Linked DNA regions of Homo sapiens: all the other regions are linked to region 4. Evidence: fine-mapped expression QTL. A gene starts in region 4. Each other region holds a variant in brackets. All regions are shown on one strand. Distances are between the middles of the regions.

The links. PIP is the estimated chance that this variant, and not a neighbour inherited with it, causes the effect. A credible set is the group of variants that fine-mapping cannot tell apart.
Region 1: its variant is the best candidate, but not a certain one, in a credible set for the expression of DISC1 in whole blood (INTERVAL, PIP 0.50).
Region 2: its variant is the best candidate, but not a certain one, in a credible set for the expression of DISC1 in whole blood (INTERVAL, PIP 0.82).
Region 3: its variant is the best candidate, but not a certain one, in a credible set for the expression of DISC1 in esophagus muscle (GTEx, PIP 0.55).

The regions. Positions count from the first base shown.
Region 1 is chr1:231,657,590-231,662,589 of GRCh38, forward strand. The region is part of intron 1 of DISC1 (DISC1 scaffold protein); the gene reads left to right. All of the region lies in intron 5 of TSNAX-DISC1 (TSNAX-DISC1 readthrough (NMD candidate)), which reads left to right. Among named protein-coding and RNA genes, the nearest start is that of DISC1, 33 kb to the left of the region's middle. The variant C/G (reference allele first, on the strand shown) is at 2,831.
Region 2 is chr1:232,026,243-232,031,242 of GRCh38, forward strand. DISC1 (DISC1 scaffold protein) reads left to right here. Exons shown (of 13, transcript NM_018662.3): 12 at 193-310. TSNAX-DISC1 (TSNAX-DISC1 readthrough (NMD candidate)) reads left to right here. Exons shown (of 16, transcript NR_028393.1): 15 at 193-310. It overlaps LOC124904549 (a long non-coding RNA gene), which reads left to right and starts at 324. Exons shown (of 2, transcript XR_007066941.1): 1 at 324-5,000. The variant A/G (reference allele first, on the strand shown) is at 2,115.
Region 3 is chr1:231,829,898-231,834,897 of GRCh38, forward strand. The region is part of intron 9 of DISC1 (DISC1 scaffold protein); the gene reads left to right. All of the region lies in intron 12 of TSNAX-DISC1 (TSNAX-DISC1 readthrough (NMD candidate)), which reads left to right. The region is part of intron 1 of LOC105373170 (a long non-coding RNA gene); the gene reads right to left. Among named protein-coding and RNA genes, the nearest start is that of DISC2, 14 kb to the left of the region's middle. RefSeq lists an enhancer at 1,462-1,972. The variant C/T (reference allele first, on the strand shown) is at 2,464.
Region 4 is chr1:231,624,230-231,629,229 of GRCh38, forward strand. It overlaps DISC1 (DISC1 scaffold protein), which reads left to right and starts at 2,561. Exons shown (of 13, transcript NM_018662.3): 1 at 2,561-2,705. The coding sequence starts at 2,639. All of the region lies in intron 5 of TSNAX-DISC1 (TSNAX-DISC1 readthrough (NMD candidate)), which reads left to right. RefSeq lists silencers at 2,457-2,716, 3,047-3,106, 4,080-4,280.

The sequences.
Region 1 (5,000 bases), 33 kb after region 4:
CTTGCAGCATTTTTATAGTTTTGGGTTTTACACTTAAGTCTTTAATCCATCTTGAATTGATTTTTGCTTAAGGTGTAAGGGATGGGTCCAGTTTCAATTTTCTGCATATGGCTAGCCAGCTCTCTCAGCACCATTTATTAAATATGGAGTCCTTTCCCCATTGCTTGTTTTTGTCTAGTTTGTTGAAGATCAGATGGTTGTAGGTGTTGGGTCTTATTTCTGAGTTCTGTATTCTGTTCCATTGGTCTATGTGTCTGTTCCTGTACCAATACCCTGCTGTTTTGGTTACTGTAGCCTTGCAGTATAGTTTGAAGTTGGGTAGCCATGATGCCTCCAGCTTTGTTCTTTTTGATTATGATTGTCTTGGCCATTTGGGATTTGTTGGTTCCACATGAATTTTAAAATAGTTTTTTCTAATTCTGTGAAGAATGTCAATGGTAGTTTAATGGGAATAGCATTGAATCTATAAATTGCTTTGGGCAGTATGGCTATTTTCATGATATTGATTCTTCCTGTTCATGAGCATGGAATGTTTCTCCATTTGTTTGTGTCCTGTACGATTTCTTTGAGCAATGGTTTGTAGTTCTCCTTGAAGAGGTCCTTCACTTCCCTTGTTAGCTGTATTCCTAGTTATTTTATTCTTTTTGTAGTAATTGTGAATGGGAGTTCATTTATGATTTGGCTCTTTGATTGCCTGTTGTTGGTGTGTAGGAATGCTAGCAATTTTTGCACATTGATTTTGTATCCTGAGACTGCTGAAGTTGCTTATCAGCTTAAAAAGCTTTTGGGCTGAGATGATGGGGTTTTCTAGATATAGGATCATGTCATCTGCAAACAAAGATAATTTGACTTCCTCTCTTCCTATTTGAACACCCTTTATTTTGTTCTCTTATCTGATTGCCCTGGCCAGAACTTCCAATACTATGTTGAATAGGAGTGGCGAGAGAGGACATCTTGTTTTGGGCTGTTTTTCAAGGGGAATGCTTCCAGCTTTTGCCCAGTCAGTATGATATTGGCTGTGGGTTTGTCATATATGGCTCTTATTATTTTGAGGTATGTTCCTTCAATACCTAGTTTATTGAGAATTTTTAACATGAAGGGATGCCAGATTTTATCGAAGGCCTTTTCTGCATATATTGAGATAATCATGTGGTTTTTGTCTTTAGTTCTGTTTATGTGATGAATCACATTTATTGATTTGCATATGTTGAACCAACTTTGTATCCTGGAGATGAAGCCAACTTGATTCTAGTGGATAAGCTTTTTGATGTGCTGCTGCATTCAGTTTGTCAGTATTTTATTGAAGGTTTTTGCATTGATGTTCATTAAGGATATCGGCCTGAGGTTTTCTTTTTTTTTGTTGTATCTCTGCCAGGTTTTGGTATCAGGATGATGCTGGCCTCATAGAATAAATTGGGGATGAGTCCCTCCTTTTCAATTTTTTGGAATAATTTCAGTCAAAATGATACCCCTTTTTCTTTGTACCTCTGGTAGAATTCAGCTGTGAATCTGTCTGTTCCTGGGCTTTTTTTGGTTGGTAAGCTATTTATTACTGTCTCAATTTCAGAACTCATTATTGGTCTATTCAGAGATTCAATTTCTTCCTGGTTCAGTCTTGGGAGGGTGTATGTGTCTAGGAATTTATCCATTTCTTCTAGATTTTTTAGTCTATGTGCATAGAGGTGTTTACAGTATTTTCTGATGGTTGTTTGTATTTCTGTGGGGTTAGTGGTGATATCTCCCTTAACATTTTCTATTGTATCTATTTGATTCTTCTCTCTTTTCCTCTTTGTTAGTCTAGCAAGTGATCTATTTTATTATTTTTTTCAAAAAACCAGTTTCTGGATTTGTTGATTTTTTTGAAGGGTTTTTTGTGTCTCTGTCTTCTTCACTTATTATGCCCTCATCCTGGTTATTTCTTGTCTTCTAGCTTTGGAGTTTGTTTGCTCTTGGTTCTCTAGTTCTTTAGTTGAGATGTTAGGTTGTTAACTTGAGATCTTTCTAGCTTTTGATGTGGGCATTTAATGCTCTAAATTTCCCTCTTAACACCACTTTACCTGTGTCCCAGAGATTCTAGGACATTGTCTCTTTGTTCTCATTAGTTTCAAAGTACTTATTGATTTCTGCCTTAATTTCATTATTTACCCAAGAGTCATTCAGGAGCAGGTTGTTCAGTTTCCATGTAGTTGTGTGGTTTTGAGTGAATTTCTTAATCTTGAGTTCTAATTTGATGGTGCTGTGGTCTGAGAGACTGTTATGATTTCAGCTCTTTTGCATTTGCTGAGGAGTGTTTTATTTCCAATTATGTGATCAGTTTTAGAGTAAGTGCCATATGTCAATGAGGAGAATGTATATTCTGCTGTTTTGTGGTGGAGAATTCTGTAGATATCTATCAGATCCACTTGATCCAGGGCTGAGTTCAGGTCCTTACTATCTTTATTAATTTTCTGTCTTGATTTGTCTAATATTGTCAGTGGGTTGTTAAAGTCTCCCACTATTATTGTGTGGGAGTCTAAGTAGTCTAAGTGTGTCATTCTTGAAGAACTTGCTTTATGAATCTGGGTGCTCCTATATTGGATGCATATATATTTAGGATAGTTAGCTCTTGTTGAATTGAACTCTTTACCATTATTAATGCCCTTCTTTATATTTTTTGATCTTTGTTGGCTTAAAGTCTTGTTTTGTCAGAAATTAGGATTGCAACCCCTACTTTTTTCTGTTTTCCATTTGCTTGGTAAATTTTCCTTCATCCTTTTATTTTGAACCTGTGTATGTCTTGCATGTGAGATGGGTCTCTTGAAGACAGCACACCAGTGGGTCTTGGCTCTGT[C/G]CAGCTTGCCATTCTGTGTCTTTTAATTGGGGCATTTAGCCCAAAAAAAAAATATATATATTTTATATTTTTTGAGATGGAATTTCACTCTGTGTCACCCAGGCTGGAGTGCAATGGTGCAGTCCCAGCTCACGGCAACCTCTGCCTCCCGGGTGAAGCGATTCTCCTGCCTCAGCCTCCCGAGTAGCTGGGATTACAGGCACCTGCCATCTTTTAGTAGAGATGGGGTTTCACCATGTTGGCCAGGCTGGTCTCGAACTCTTGACCTCAGGTGATTTGCCTGCCTCAGGCTTCCAAAGTGCTGGGATTACAGGTGTGAGCCACTGTGCCTGGCCTAGCCCATTTATATTTAAGGTTAGTATTATTATATGTGAATTTGATCCTGTCATCATGATGCTAGCTGGTTATTTTGCAGACTTGTTTATGTAGTTGCTTCATAGTGTCACTGGTCTGTGTAGTTCAGTGTGTTTTTGTAGTGGCTGGTAACAGTTTTTCGTTTCCATATTTAGTGCTTCCTGGTGGTGATGAATTCTCTCAGCCTTTGCTTGTCTGAAAAGGATCTTATTTCTCCTTCATTTATGAACCTTAGTTTGGTCAGATATGAAATCTTGGGTTGGAAATTCTTTTCTTTAAGACTGTAGAATATTGGCCCACAATCTCTTCTGGCTTGTAGGGTTTCCATTGAGAGGTCCTCAGTTAGTCTGATTGGCTTCCCGTTGTAGGTGACCTGGCCTTTCTTTCTGGCTGCCCTTCACTTTTTTTTTTTCATTTCGACCTGGAGAATCTGATGATTATGTGTCTGGGGGTTGATCTTCTCATGGAGGATCCTACTGGGGTTCTCTGCACTTCCTGAATTGAATATTGGCCTATCTTGCCAGGTTGGGTGAGTTCTCTTGAATGATATCCTGAAGTGTGATTTCCAACTTGGTTCCATTCTCCCTGTCCCTTTCAGGTATCCCAATCAGTTGGAGGTTTGGTCTCTTCATAGAATCCCATATTTCTTGGAGGTTTTGTTCATTCCTTTTCATTCTTTTTTCTCTATTCTTGTCTGCCTGTCTTATTTCAGAAAGATAGTCTTTAAGCTCTGAAATTCTTTCCTCCACTTGGTCTATTCTGCTATTGATACTTGTGATTGCATTGTGAGGTTCTCGTGTTGTGTGTTTTCAGCTCCATGAGCTTGGTTATGTTCCTCTCTAAACTGGCTATTCTGGCTATCAGCTTCTGTATTGTTTTATCATGATTCTTAGCTTCTTTGCATTGGGTTACAACATGCTCCTTTTACTCAGTGAAGTTTGTTATTACCCACCTTCTGAAGTCTACTTCTGTCAGTTCAGTCATCTCAGCCTCAGCCCAGTTCTGTTCCCTTGCTGGAGAGGTGTTACTGTCATTTGGAGGAGAAGAGCCACTCTGGCTTTTTGAGTTTTCAGCACTGATTCTTTGCTTATCTTTGTGGGCTTATCTACCTTCAATCTTTGAGGTTGCTGGCCTTTCAATAGGGTTTTGTGGGATTCTTTTTGTTGATCTTTTTGTTGTTGTTGTTTTCTGTTTGTTTTTCTTTTCATAGTCAGGCCACTCTACCGTAGGGCTGCTGCAGTTTGCTGGGGGTCTGCTCCAGACCTTGGTTGCCTTGGTTTTTCCTGTACCTGGAGATATCACCAGTGAAGGCTGCAAAACAGCAAAGATGGCTGCCAGCTCCTTCCTGTGGAAGCTCTGTGCCAGGGGGATACTGACCTGTTGCTGGCCAGAACATATCTGTAAGAGGTGGCTGGAGACCCCTGTTTGGAGGTCTCACCCAGTCAGGTGGAATGGTATCAGGGACCCATTTAAAGATGAGTCTTGCTGCTTTTTGTCTGAGGAGGTGTGCTGCATTGTGGCAGACCCTTCCTCATCTGGACTGTTTGCATTCTCCAAAGCCAGCAGGCTGGAATGGTTGAGTCCACTGAACCACAGAGATGGCAGCCACCTCTCCCCCTGGGAGCTGCATCCGAGGGAGAGGTCAGAGTTCTGTTAATAGAACCCTTGTTGGCGTGGCTGAAGCCCCCACAGGGAGGTCCCTCCCAGTAAGGAGGAATGAATCGGGGTCCCACTTAACGAAGCAATCTGGCCACAGTGTGGCAAAGCAGCTGTGCTGCATTGTGGGGGGCCCTTCCTCATCTGGACCATTTGTATT
Region 2 (5,000 bases), 400 kb after region 4:
AAGCTCATTCTTTGGTCATAACTTGAAATCAGTTCACAACTTCTCAAGTTTGATACCCAGGGGAGACACAGGCCCTAGCACAATTCTGACTGAGGTGCAGAAACTGGGAGAGCTCTTTCCAGGAAGCTTCCCTTTGTGTTCTGTCTGTGTCCACGGCACTAACAAGTGATCTTGTTTTCCCCCTCTCGCCAGGAATCTTACATCCTTTCTGCAGAACTTGGAGAAAAGTGTGAAGACATAGGCAAGAAGCTATTGTACTTGGAAGATCAACTTCACACAGCAATCCACAGTCATGATGAAGATCTCATTCATATCCTTTTCATCTTGCAGATGAAGCAAGGCAAAGTTATTTTATAAAAGAGAGTCTTTAAAGGGTAGTTTTTCATGCCTCAGAAGATGGCAACAAATAGATGCTGCCGTTATTTATAGCACAGAGCACCTCAGATCTCTGAGATTATCAGGTATGAAATGTTTTCGCTCTAGTTTTCAGTAAGCAATTCAGTATTTTTTTTCTTTTTTCTTTTTTTTTTTTTTTTTTTTTTGATGCCTTGGCTGGAGTGCAATGGTGTGATCTCAGCTCACTGCAGCCTCCACCTCCTGGGTTCAAACGGTTCTCCTGCCTCAGCCTCCTGAGTAGCTGGGATTACAGGTGCCCGCCAGCACGCCCAGCTAATTTTTTTGTATTTTTAGTAGAGAGAGGGTTTTGCCATGTTTGCCAGGCTGGTCTAGAACTCCTGACCTCAAGTGATCCGCCCGCCTTGGCCTCCCAAAGTGCTGGGATTACAGGCTTGGGCCACCGCATCCGGCCGCAATTCAGTATTTTTAATTGCTAAATCCAACCACTAACAATTAAGTTCAGACATGCACACGAGGAAGCCAAAGAAAATGCAGTTTCAAGTGAGTGTAAATCCAGCTCTGTGTGGCCCTGGTGAAGGAAAACAGTTGACTGGCTCGTTTTCCTACGAGCTTTTTCAATACCAAGCGTCCTAAATCCACCTCTGAATTTCTTTATCTAGCAACTCTACCTAGTAATGGGCAGTACAGTAACAAAGCAAACAGGACTTTAGATTATTTCCTTTCAACTTCTAACCATATACACATGGTTGAACTCAATTTAGTCCTTTCTGCTTCCCGGTGATAGAATTTCTTGCACCAGACTTAATATCCTTGGTGTCACACCTACAAACACCTTCATCAAAACTAGCTGCTAGTGAGCAAGATGGCCTGAGAACATACTGGCTTAGGTATGCATCCGTATGAAGCACTCCATTCTGTGTTGATCTGTGGACGCAGTTTGTCACTGGTTAGTTCTGCTGAGAGCAAATGGGTGGGTACCCAGTGGATGAAGGGATATGCAGCCCTATATCCTTTCAGTTATTTAATCACAAGTTGACACTTCTCTAGCTAAAAACACTTCCCTATTCATTCATCTTTCTATTCAGTAGAATGTCTTTTATTAGATGCGTTTGTGGCAAATTTAGCTATTTTGGTCTTTGCTTGTCATTGCTGTCTTACTTTTTAGAATTCCAGTTTTTACCATACTTTATGGGCTGTGTGTGTGTGTGTGTGTGTGTGTGTGTGTGTGTGTATAAGTAGCTTTGAATGGCCAAGGATTAATCTTAGTCATAAATACTCAGATCTGTGATTTAATGATAGAGCCAATGCTACACTTCCTTCCTTGTTATAACTTTACATTTTTGACCTTGTTTATTAAGCTGGGCAGAAAATTTCTTCAACTTAATCTGCAATGATTTTCACATTGCTTTAGGTAGATTTTGAAAAGCAGATATTCTGTTCTTCATAATTTCCTGCCTCTTAAAAATCTTGTATTTAAGCTATTATCAGAAAGTTTCCCAAAGAAGCATACAAACATAGAATAAGGATGGCGTTTTTATTTATTCCATGTTCATGGGATCACAAATCTTTGAGCACGTGTAAGGGGGTATGGCTTCCAGCAAATGGGCAGGTGATGGGGCACAGAGGAGGAGTCCGCTGCAGAGAGTCAATGGATATGAAGGGGTTCCCGTTCCCCAGCTCAGCAGATGGGCAGTTCCTAAGTGGGTTGTACCTCTGTCTTCAGGTAGCAGTTCTGAGGGCTGCAGTCAGGGTTCTGT[A/G]CTGGTCTCTTATTGTGAAATTTTCTAAAAGGTTAGTTTGATTCTGGGGAATTGGATCTTATTTTTACTAGAGCTGGGGAGGCAGCTCTAGTAAAGACCCCTGAAAAACAAGGGGTTAAGCAGTATTTAAACAAGATCCTTTTAGTTTTTCCACAGCTGATCCAAGCCAGATTTAATAGCAGCGGGATCATGGACAAGTGATAATGCCTCTTTAAGCATTAGGGTTCCCATCTGTAATGTCAGGATAACATACACCTCTAAGGTTTTTATGGGGGTTAAATAAGGCTATATTCATAATGTACATTTAATATAGCCATGGGTAAGTGCATGATTTTAGGTAGAAAAGTGTTATCCAAGTCCATTTGTCTCACAGTTCTTAGTATATTAGTCACAAGCTCCAAGAACATCCCATTTATACACAAAAAGTTTCAAGGTAGATTGATTCAACTATTTTGTAATAAATGCTTGAAGGAATCAATCAGTAACTCCACAGTGGCTTAGATGAAAAGTCATTTAATTATAATAAAACTTCTATAAATGGATAGGGATTATTATCCCTACTTGACAGTCGAAAAAAACAAGGCTTGGGAACAACTTGGCTGACACAAGGTCATTTCTGATGAGTAGCAGAACTTTTCAGCCACAAGCCCCATGGTCCTATTAGGCCCATCAGAAAGCAGCCATTGCCTATAAGTAAATGGACAGGTCTGTTCCATGGAACACACAATTACTTTAAATTTTTAAGCTATAATAAAAGTATTTCACTGATGTTATGTTTTTTGAGAATTTCACTGATCTCTGTTGTGATAAGCGGAGAAGCACTGGTTTAGGTACTGAAGTCAGCTCTCTCCCTCCCTCCAATAAAATCTACACCACGATATGGATTTCAACCCAGACTTTTCTTCGAATCCCAGTCTTCTGTCACTGATTGAGAATAAATACACAGAAGGTGTCTTTGAATTCATACAAAGCAGCACTTAAATTTGAGTGGAACATTATGCCCTAAGATAGAAAGACATGTTTACAAGGCTCTACGGAGGCTCCCCTACACAAACCAAAGCCGTTGTTTCAAATTAGAGCTTATCTAGAGATTCAGAGAGGCTGCCAGAATCCTCCAGCCAAACTCTGACTGGTTTGTATTTCCATGTTTGATCAAAGATACAATGCTGAGTGTGGCTGAAAGAAACAGCTTGTTGTCAACAATACAGAAGGATTGCACAGTGAGTGCAGTGTTTTGTTTGATTCCATTAAGCATGCTGCCAGAGCCTACTGTGCATGTGAGGTACCCAATTAATCTAAGTCCACATTGGAATGTGATTAATGTAAGCCCACATTGGACGTCCACGTCTGAAAGATTCAAGCCACAGATGCTACCATGGATGTTTATTCTTTGTGTGGAAAACACTCAGTTTTTGCATAAACCATGTGTGTACATAAGGGCTATTAGTGTGGCATCAACAGAGGTTAGGGGTGGGCAGTGGGACTGAGTTTCCAAATAGGTCCTTGTGGCCTCCTGATTTAATATCCGAGTTATGGGCAGCCTCATGGGTGTCTCCTACTTTTATTAAGAAGACACTGATTGACCAATCCAAGGAGGGAGAGGAAAGAGCCTTTGCCTCTTCATCGTCCTGACAGGCTCACCAAATTACATGTAGCATGACCAAAGAACAACACAAACCCATCAGCTACTGTGGCAGCGAGTGTCTGAAAACAGTCTGCACCATTAATTGGGAGAGCTGGTGGTGGAGAGGTGGCTCACGCCTAGTGCCTGAGAAGGGGACAGGAGGTGTGACTTCACGGCCAGTCAAGTCGGGACTTCCAGGAGCATTAGTGTGAGTCTCTAGTGCATTTTCACAGTCATCTGGGGTCCTAATTAGCAGTATGTTTTGAAAAACATTTTGACTGTGTGCAAGGTCTCCTCCACGCTCAAAATATTGTAACCAAAAGCCTTCCAAATTAAGGTGGATTTTTAAGCAGGAATTTTCTCATTTTCTTCCTCCTTCAATTTCTACAACACACTTTCAAAGGAAAAGAAGTACACCTGTGATATGTACATTTTTGGCATATTTCAAAGCCCTCAGGGCAGTTCTGCCTGGCCCTCAGTCATAGACGAGGTAGAGACACTCTGATTCTATTTGTGGTTGTATTTACATCCATGTCTGGGAAGCCCTTATGGAATTCTGTTTCTCTGGTTATTTGGAGTGCATGGTGCCCAATTGTTTAGTTTTGGTGGTGCTTGAGGGCATGCTCTAAATACATCCAGGTTTGTGCACAAATACCACAGCTCCGTAGGACCCTTGTTTAGTTCAACTTTCCAAATTTTAGCGTGAACAGACAAAGGTAACGAGAGTTTTGGGAGACTGTCCTGCCTCCTTGGAGATGTTTTCCACTTCTAGAGCTGAGGGGCTGGAAGAGGGATCATGAGGATCATGGAGCTCCACTCATGTAGTTTATAGATAAGAAAATCCAGAGCCTGGCCAGGTGCGGTGGCTTACATCTTAATCCCGGCACTTTGGGAGGCTGAGGTGGATGGATTGTTTGAGACCAGGAGTTTGAGACCAGCCTAGGCAACATGGCAAAACCCTGTCTCTATTAAAAATACAAAAATTAACTGGGCGTGATGGTGCACACCTGTAGTCCCAGCTACTCCAGAGGCGTGAGAATTGCTTGAACCCAGGAGGTGGAGGTCGCAGTGAGCTGAGACTGCACACTACTACACTCCAGCCTGGGCAACAAAGTAAGACACTGCCAAAGAAGGAGGGAGGGAAGGAAGGAAGGAAGGAGGGAGAGAGGAGAGAGAGAGAGAGAACAGGAAGGAAGGAAGGGAGAAAGGAGAGACAGAGAGAGAGGAAGGAAGGAAGGGAGAAAGAGAGAGAGAAAGAGAGG
Region 3 (5,000 bases), 210 kb after region 4:
CTTTTGAGCCAGGATGAGCCAGGAGAAGGAATTTCACCAGATAATGTCATCTGTTAAGGCAGGAACAGGCCATTTTCACTTCTTTTGTGGTGGAATGTCATCAGTTAAGGCAGGAACTGGCCATCTGGATGTGTACGTGCAGGTCACAGGGGATATGATAGTTTAGCTTGGGCTCAGAGGCCTGACATTCCTGTCTTCTTATATTAATAAGAAAAATAAAATGAAATGGTGGTAAAGTGTTGGGATGGTGAAAAGTTTTGGAGGTGGTATGGAGAGATAATGGGCGATGTTTCTCAGGGCTGCTTCGAGCGGGATTAGGGCGGCATGGGAACCTAGAGTGGGAGATATTAAGCTGAAGGAAGATTTTGTGGTAAAGGGTGATATTGTGCGGTTGTTAGAAGAAACATTTGTCATTTAGAATTATTGGTGATGGCCTGGATATGGTTTTGTATGAATTGAAAAACTAAATGGAATAAGAGAAGGAGAAAAACAGGTATTAAAGGTCTAAGAATTGGGAGGACCTAGGACATCTAATTAGAGAGTGCCTAAGGAGATTCAGCATAGTCCTGCCAGCAAAGATTATTTATTTACTTCAAAAGTTAAGAGCGGCAGTTTGGGGATAGCACCAGGAGATATCAGCTGTGATGGCTTGGAAAAACAGTGTAAACCGGCAGCGTAAACAAGAGCAGGGCATGTATGAGTAGTTGAGAATGGTGAATAGGAGTATAACTAGACAGAAGATAGTAGGGATGACAAGTTTTTTGGGGCACAGTCCAAGTTGGTCTGGTGTCTGGAATGAGACTGGGGCCTAATAAAAAGGAGCGTCCATACAGGAGCTCAAATGGGCTGTACCCTGTAGCATTCCGAGGACAGGCCTGAATTCTGAGAAGGGAAAGTGGTAAAAGTATTGTCCAGTCCTTTTTAAGTTGGTGGCTGAGCTTGGTGAGGTGTGTTTTTAAAAGACCATTAGTCTGTTCTACCTTTCCTGAAGACGGAGGACCGTAAGGGATATAAAGGTTTCACTGAATACTAAGAGCCTGAAAAACTGCTTGGCTGATTTGACTAATAAAGGCTCGTCTGTTATCAGACTGTATTGAGGTGGGAAGGCTAAACTGAGGAATTATGTCTGACAGAAGGGAAGAAATGACTGCAGTGGCCTTCTCGGACCCTGTAGGAAAGGCCTCTACCCATCCAGTGAAATGGCTACCCAGGCTAAGAGGTATTTTAATTTTCTGACTTGGGGCATGTGAGTAAAGTCAATTTGCCAGTCCTGGGCAGGGGCAAATCCCCGGGCTTGATGTGTAGGGAAGGGAGGAGGCCTGAACAATCCCCAAGGGGTAGTAGAATAGCAGATGGAACACTGAGAAGTGATTTCCTGGAGGATAGATTTCCAGGATGGAAAGGAAATGAGAGATTCTAAGAGACAGGGTAGCAGCTTGTAACCTATGTGGAAGAGGTTATGAAATGACAACAGAATAGAATGGGACTGTGAGGCTGCAAGGAGATATTTTCCTTGGTCTAAGAACCATTTGCCTTGTGTGGGAAGAGACTGATAGGTGGAAGTTTCAGCAGGGGAGTAGGTGGGAATGACTGATGTGAAGGAGAAAAACTGGCCGTGAGGGACAGAAGTTGGAGAGCTAGCTGCTTGTCTAGCCACCTTATCAGCATAAGCGTTGCCTAGAGCAATGGGATCTGACGCCTTTTGATGGCCTTTGCAGTGAATGACTCCAGCTTCCTTTGGAAGTAAAGCCGCCTTGAGCAGAGTTTTTATTAGAGGCATTAATGATGGAGGACCCTTGCGTAGTGAGGAAACCTCTTTCAGCCCATGTGACCACATGGTGGTGTATGATATGGAAGGCATATTTAGAGTCAGTATAAATATTGACGTGTCGTCCTTTTGCAAGAGTGAGGGCTTGAGTTAAGGCAACTAGTTCGGCTTTCTGAGAGGTAGTGGGGGGGGGTGGGCAGAGTGGTAGCCTTGATGATAGATGTGGAAGCTACTATAGCATAGCCTGCCTTTGCTGGTGAGTGGCGATTAGGCCTGGTGGAACTGCCATCAATAAACCAAATGTGATCAGGGTGAGGAACAGGAAAGAAGGAAATATGGGGAAATGGGGTGAATGTTAGGTGGATCAGAGAGATACAGTCATGAGGGTCAGGTGTGGTATCCAGAATAATGTGGGAGGCTGGATTGAAGTCCATGCCAGGAACAGTGGTAATTGTGGGACACTCAACAAAGAGTGAGCACAGCTGAAGGAGCCAGGGAGCAGAAAGTATATGCCTCAGGTGTGAGGAAGAAAATAGATTTTGGAAGTTATGAGAACTGTAGAGAGTGAGTTGAGCATAGTTTGTGATTTTGAGGGCCTCTAAAAGTATTAAAGCAGCGGCAGCCGCTGCACGCAGACATGAGGGCTAGGCTAAAACAGTAAGGTCAAGTTGTTTGGACAGAAAGGCTACAGGGTG[C/T]GGTCCTGGCTCTTGTGTAAGAATTCTGACCTCACTAACCATGCCTAGGAAGGAAAGGAGTTGTTGTTTTGTAAGGGATTGAGGTTTGGGAGATTAGTCAGACATGATCAGCAGGGAGAGCATGTGTGTTTTTATGAGAATTATGCCGAGATAGGTAACAGATGAGGATGAAATTTGGACTTGACTGAAGTAATGGGGGCTGTCTGTGAAGCCCTGTGGCAGTACAGCCCAGGTAATTTGCTGAGCCTAATGGGTGTCAGGGTCAGTCTAAGTGAAAGCGAAGAGAGGCTGGGATGAAGGGTGCAAAGGGATAGTAAAGAAAGCATGTTTGAGATCCAGAACAGAATAATGGGCTGTGGAGGGAGGTATTGAGGATAGGAGAGTATATGGGTTTGGCACCACAGGGTGGATAGGCAAAACAATTTCATTGATAAGGCGCAGATCCTGAACTAACCTGTAAGGCTTGTCTGGTTCTAGGACAGGTAAAATGGGGGAATTATAAGGAGAGTTTATAGGCTTTAAAAGGCCATGCTGTAACAGGTGAGTGATAACAGGCTTTAATCATTTTAAAGAGTGCTGTGGGATGGGATATTGGCATTGAGCAGGCTAAGGGTGATTAGGTTTTAATGAGATGGTAAGGGGTGCATGATCGGTCACCAAGGAGGGAGTAGAGGTATCTTATACTTGTGGGTTAAGGTGGGGGGATACAAGAGGAGGACGCAAAGGAGGCTTTGGATTGGGAAGAAGGGCGGCAATGAGATTCAGCTGTAGTCCAGGAATAGTCAGGGAAGCAGATAATTTAGTTAAAGTGTCTCAGCCTAATAAGGGAACTGGACAGGTGGGGACAATTAAAAAGGAGTGCTTAAAAGAGTATTGTCAAAGTTGGCACCAGAGTTGGGGAGTTTTAAGAGGTTTAGAAGCCTGGCCGTCAATATCTACAACAGTTATGGAGGCAAGGGAAACAGGCCCTTGAAAAGAAGGTAATGTGGAGTGGGTAGCCTCCATATTGATTAAGAAGGGGAAGGACTTACCCTCCACTGTGAGAGTTACCCAAATCTCGGCATCCATGATGGTCTAGGGGGCTTCCAAGGCGATTTGGCAGTGTCAGTCTTCAGCTGCTAAGCTGAGAAGATCTGGGAAGGAGTCAGTCAGAGAGCCTTGGGCCAGAGTTCCAGGGGCTCTGGGAGTGGCTGCCAGGTGAGTTGAACAGTCCGATTTTCAGTGGAGTCCCGCACAGATGAGACGCGGCTTAGGAGGAATCCTGGGCTGCGGGCATTCCTTGGCCTGGTGGCCAGATTTCTGGCACTTGTAGCAAGCTCCTGGGGGAGGCAGGCCTGGAGGAACTCCTGGTCACTGCGGTTTAGGCATTTGGAAGTTCTTGTGTGCTGGAGATGTGGCTGGGGTTTGTCTCACAGTGGAGGCAAGGAATTGCAACTCAGAAATATGTTGCTACTTGGCTGCCTCTACTCTATTATTGTACACCTTGAAGGCACGGTTAATGAAGTCCTGTTGTGGGGTTTGAGGGCTGGAATTTAATTTTTGGAGTTTTATTTAATGTCCAGAGCAGATTGGGTAATAAAATGTATTTTGAGAATAAGACGGCCTTTTGACCTTTTAGGGTCCAGGGCTGTAAAGTGTCTCAGGGTTGCTGCCAAACGAGCCATGAACTGGGCTGGGTTTTTATAGTTGCTGAAAAAGAGCCTAAACACTATCTGATTTGGGATAAAGAAAAAGGAGCATTAACCTTGACTATGCCTTTAGCTCCAGCCACCTTTTTAAGAGGAAATTGCTGGGCAGGTGGGGGAGGGCTAGTCATGGAACGAAACTGTAAGCCAGACCGGGTGTAAGGAGGAGAGGTGATAAAAGGATTATAGGGTGGAGGAGTGGAGGCCGAGGAAGAATTTGGACCTAGCTTGGCCTGGTGAGGAGGGGAGAGGTCAGATGGGTCTGTAGAAAAGGAAGATTAGAAAGACTTAGCGACGCTTGGGGTTGGGACTGAGGGGACAGGCAGGAGGGAAAGAAGGAAGATTTGGGATGAGTTGTACTGGGAACAGAGACTAGGGAGGGACCGATGTGTAAAAGAATGTCTGGACGTCAGGCATCTCAGACCGTTTGCCCATTTTATGACAAGAATTATTTAGATCTTGTAGGATGGAAAAATTGAACGTGCCGTTTTCTGGCTATTTGGAACCACTGTCGAGTTTGCATTGGGGTCAAGCGGCATCGCAGAAGAAAATAAGGCATTTAGGTTTTAGGTCAGGTGTAAGTTGAATAGGTTTTAGGTTTTTAAGAACACAGGCTAAGGGAGAAGAAGGGGGCAATGGGGGGCAGAAGCTTGCCCATAGTGAAGGAGGCAAGCCCAGAGAAAAGAGAGAGTAGAGACACGGAGAGAAGGGATGGGGGGTTCTTGCCCCCTAGAAAAGCTGTACTTGCCACTAACGGTGAAGGACCAAGGCAGGCGTCCCTGCATGGTCAGACACCTCTGAAACGTGGGTGAATAATCATGCAGACATCCCCGTGTGATTAAACACCAAGCG
Region 4 (5,000 bases):
GAGCTAGAGTGATCCTCCTGCTTCAGCCTCCCAAGTAGCTGGGACTACAGGTACAGGCCACTGTGCTGGCTAATTAATTTTTTTTTTCTTTATAGAAAGGGTTTTGACAAGCAATGGGTAAAGAATTTCCTAAATGGTGATGGGATAACTGGCTAGTCATATGCAGAAGATTGAAACTGGACCTCTACCTTACAGTTTATACAAAGTTAACTAAAGATGTATTAAAGACTTAATTGTAAAACCCAAAACTATAAAATCCCTGCAAGACAACCTAGGCAATACCATTCAGGACATAGGCATGGGCAAAGATTTCACGACAAAGATGCCAAAAGCAAAAATTGACAACTGGGATCTAATTAAACTAAAGAGCTTCTGAACAGCAAAAGAAACTATCAACAGAGTAAACAGACAACCTACAGAATGGGAAAACAATTTTGCAAACTGTGATCTAACAAAGATCTAATATCCAGCATCTTATAAGGAACTTATATTTACAAGAAAAAACCAAACAACCCCATTAAAAAGTGAGCAAGGGACATGAACAGACACTTTTCAAAAGAAGACATATATGTGGACAACATTCATATAAAAAAAGCTCAACATCACTGATTATCAGATAAATGCAAATCAAAACCACAATGAAATACCACCTAACACCGGTCAGAATGGGTATTACTAAAAAGTCAAAAAATAACAGATGCTGGAGAAGTTGTGGAGAAAAAGGAACACTTTTACACTGTTGGTGGGAGTGTAAATTAGTTCAGCTATTGTGGAAGACAGTGTGGTGATTCCTCAAAGACCCAAAGACAGAAATATTGTTTGACCCAACAATCGTATGACTGGGTATACACCCAAAGGAATATAAATAATTCTATTATAAAGACACATGCACACACATGTTCACTGCAGCACTATTCACAACGGCAAATATATGGAATCAATCTAAATGCCCATCAATGATAGGCTGGATAAAAAAATATGGTACATATATACCATAGAATACTATGCAGCCATAAAAAAGAATGAGATCATGTCTTTTGCAGGGACATGGATGGAGCTGGAGGCCATTATTCTTAGCAAACTAACACAAGAACAGAAAACCAAACACTGCATGTTCTCACTTATAAGTGGGAGATAAATGATGAGAACACATGGACGCATAGAGGGGAACAGCACACACTGGTGCCTTTTGGAGGGCGGAGGGTAGGAGAAGGGCGAGGATCAAGAAAAACAACTAATGAGCACTAGGCTTAATACCTGGGTGACAAAATACTCTGTACAACAAACACCCATGACACAAGTTTACCTATGTAACAAACTGAACTTAAAAGTTAAAAAAAAAAAAGAGGTTCTTATTATGTTGCCCAGGCTGATCTCAAACTTCTGGACTCAAGTGAACTTCCACCTTGGCCTCCCAAAGTGCCTGGCCTTAGATATTCATACATTTATTTATTTTTAGAGATGTGGTGGGGGTGTGGGGGGTCTCTCTCTGTCACCTGGGCTGGAGTGCAGTGGCCCCATCATAGCTCACTGAAGCCTTGAACTCCTGGACTCAAGCAATCCTCCCACCTAAGCCTGCCGAGTAGCTGGGACTACAGGAGTGCACTACCATGCCGGGCAAACACACTGATTTTAAGTACAACTGTGTGCTTTCAGTCTTAAGATCTTCAGCTTTTGAAGGACCTCAGCCTTCCTCTAGTTCTAACTCCTCTCGTTCTAAGGAGATCCTTCCCATTCCTGCAGAACGTCTCCCCAACCCTTCTTCTTCACAGTTCTCCCTCCTATCCCTGAACCATTGCAAGAGGTTTTGTGCCAAGCCTCTGGCACATGGCACATTCTATCTCATGTTGTGATTTCGTTTTCTATGCACGTGCTCTCCTTCTAGCCTGGAGGTGAGCTGCTTAAGGGCAAAGAGCTCATGTGTAGCCCTTCCTTGTACCCATTGTCCTATAGCAGGTGCTACCTAGGGGGTGCTCCAGTAGCTTCCTTGAATGAACCAAAGAGAAGGGGTGAAGGGGGGAGTCAGTTGCCTAGGAGCTTGCATGGACTTCTGTGTCCTGGAACCAGCCCGGAGCTGCTGGAAGATGCTAGAAGTTGGAATCCTATCTCATTTCTAAACATCTGCTCCCACTCATCTCTTTCCAGGGTCATCAGTTATCCCCACTCCTCCCCCCCGCCCCCACTTTGTATAAATGAGCCCCTCACATCCCTCCATCTTCTCCATCACTGTGTGGTCACTTCTTAAATCATGCGTCTGGAAGGCGCCCTCCTGTACCCCATCCTGGAGGCTTCCTGCACTTCCCCTCTTGTTTCTTCCAGAAATGAGTCAGAGTGAAAGCAAACTTTCTGAGGTCCTGAGATCCCGGAGACAGGCTGTGAGGGCCGCTGGCCCCGCCCGCTCCAGCAGCGTGTGTGTGTATGTCTGTGTGTGTGTGTGTGCGCGCGCGCGCGCGCGTCAGGGGCCAATGCTGGAAAGGAAACAGCGGACTCGCTGAGGAGAAGAAAGGAGCCGCCCCCTTCGTCGCCAGCCCCCTCCCCACTTCCCGTCCAGCGCGCTGCTCCCTTCCCCCCGCCTCTGGCCTCGGGGAAGGAGCAGGAGGCAGCCCAGGCGGAGCGGGAGGAGCTGGCAGCGGGGCGCATGCCAGGCGGGGGTCCTCAGGGCGCCCCAGCCGCCGCCGGCGGCGGCGGCGTGAGCCACCGCGCAGGTAGGGGAGCTGCCACAGAGTCCTAGCACGTCCTGGGGGGGTCCTGGCAAGGAGGGCGCGCTCTGGCCCCCAGGAAGTCGCGTAGGTCAGGGCGTGCCTCTGTTAACAACCCCTTTCGAGGTGAGGGAAACTGAGGCAGGACGCGAGGCGTGCGAGGTTGAGAGAAGAGCGAGTCTTGGGCTGCCAGCCCGGCACCAGCGCCGAGCCGGGCCAGGTCCCTGACCCAGGACTGTGCAGCGATCCCCGGGACCCGCAGTTTGCGAAACTGTAGGAGTCTGACCCGCGCCCCCGCTGCGTGTCCAGGTGACCGGGAAAGGTTGCAGAGGCGTGCTTGGGGTTTGGATCCGTCCCCGTCCTGGGACACCTGCGCCGCCTGCACTCTCGTTGCGGTGCGCCCCAGCCTGCGCCCCCTCGGGACAGGGGACGTCCCGCCCGCCTTAACCCCAAGACCCAGCTGGATCTCGGGTTCCACCCCTTCGGGGACCTGGAGGGAGGAGGCTGGGAGCGGGACCAGGAACTGGTGCCTGTGCCTTCCCTAGGGGCTGCTCTGAAATCAGTGTCACCGCCCACTTCCTACTTGGCTACAGTAACGGGGATGGCCCAAGCCGGAGACTGCTCGGTTTCCACCGCCTGGAGCGCGGGTCTCGCTGTCAACTCTTAGTGATGATTGTGGATGGTTGTTTTTCAACAATGACAGGACTTCTACCTTCTCACTCTTAAAATGTGAGGTTTTCCAAAGACAGTGAGATTTGGAGTTAGGGAGTGCTGCCTTGTGTTCTTGCTGGGTGAGGACAGGGCTGGGTCAGTCGCTTAACCTCTCAGAGCCTCAGTCTCCTGAAATGTAAAGGAGAACACTCATAGCCTGGCCTCCATGTGTCGTTAGGTTTGTTGTATGGGAAATCAATTTGCAAAGTGTTATCATCAACTGGACAAATTTGAATTGGACAGCACTAGGACCATAGGAACTGGGGTTTGGAGACAGTCTGCCTGCATGTCAATCCTGGACATGCAGGAGACTATGACAGTACCTGCTTCATAGGGTTGTTATGCGGTTTAACTGTGATGGTGGAAGTGAAGCACCTCGCCCAATGCCTGAAATACCCAGTGCACTCTCAAAAAACCTTAGTTGCTATTTTTCCTAGGCAAAATCTAAATAATTGGGAGTAATGTGAGAATACCAGTTTGATTTGATTAATGCAGGAATAGTAGGGCATTTAAAAACACATGTAGTTCTCCTGTGCTCGGCATGGTACATGAAGTCCTCTGAGGTTCAGTTCTGTGCCACAGAGCAAAAAGAACCGTGGACAAGATACCCGCTTTTCGGGCTCTTTGACTTTGAGCCTGTTTTCTCATCTGTTTACAAAAAAGATAAAAGAAAAATGGGGGTAGTAATTACTGCCTTTTGTACTGATCGCATTGCCTGAGGATTAAATGAGGCAAAAGATCTGAAAGCACCTTGTGGAGTATGAGTCACTATGCACATATAAGACATGATAGTACTAGGAGGGAATGGTAACATCTGCAGGTTTTTAGAACTTACAATGTGCCAGACATTTTATTATGAATTCCTTTGATGAAATCCTCCCTGCATCTTTATGGGACTGGGATTACAGTCCTCATTTCCCTATGACAAAGCTGAGGTTCAGGGTCACCCTGCTTGGTTCCCAAGCTCACAGAGCTCTTAAGTGTAAAGCCAGGATTAGAACCCTGGTGTGGGTGCCACTCACAACTGTGTTCTTGGCCGCTTGCCAAACTGAACTTATAGAGTGGAGCTGTGATTCAGAACAGACCTATATTAGAATTTAGGTAATTTTTTTTTCTTTAGGAGACAGAGTCTTGCTCTGTCACCCAGGATGGAGTGCAGTGGCACAATCATGGCTCACTGTAGCCTTGAACTCCTGGGCTCAAGAGATCCTCCTGTTCCAGCTTTTTGAGTAGTTGGGATTACAGGCGCATGCCACCATGCCCAGCTAATTTTTTTTTTTAGAGTTGGAGTCTTGCTATGTTGCTCAGGCTGGTCTCGACCTCCTGGCTTCAATCATTCCTCCCACTTTGGCCTCCCAAAGCGCTAGGATTACAGGCATGAGCCACCAGGCCCAACCTCCATCCTGCATATCTATAGACCCAAAATGTAAGAGTGAACTGTTAATCCTGGCAAAAGAGGCTTTGGCATAATTTTAATTTCCCTCAGACTTATTTTATAAAATATACTTTAAACTATCTTCTTGTAAAACAAATGATGACAATTTGCAGAAAAGTTATTAAAACATTGAAAGAACAGGTTGCAAGATCTCA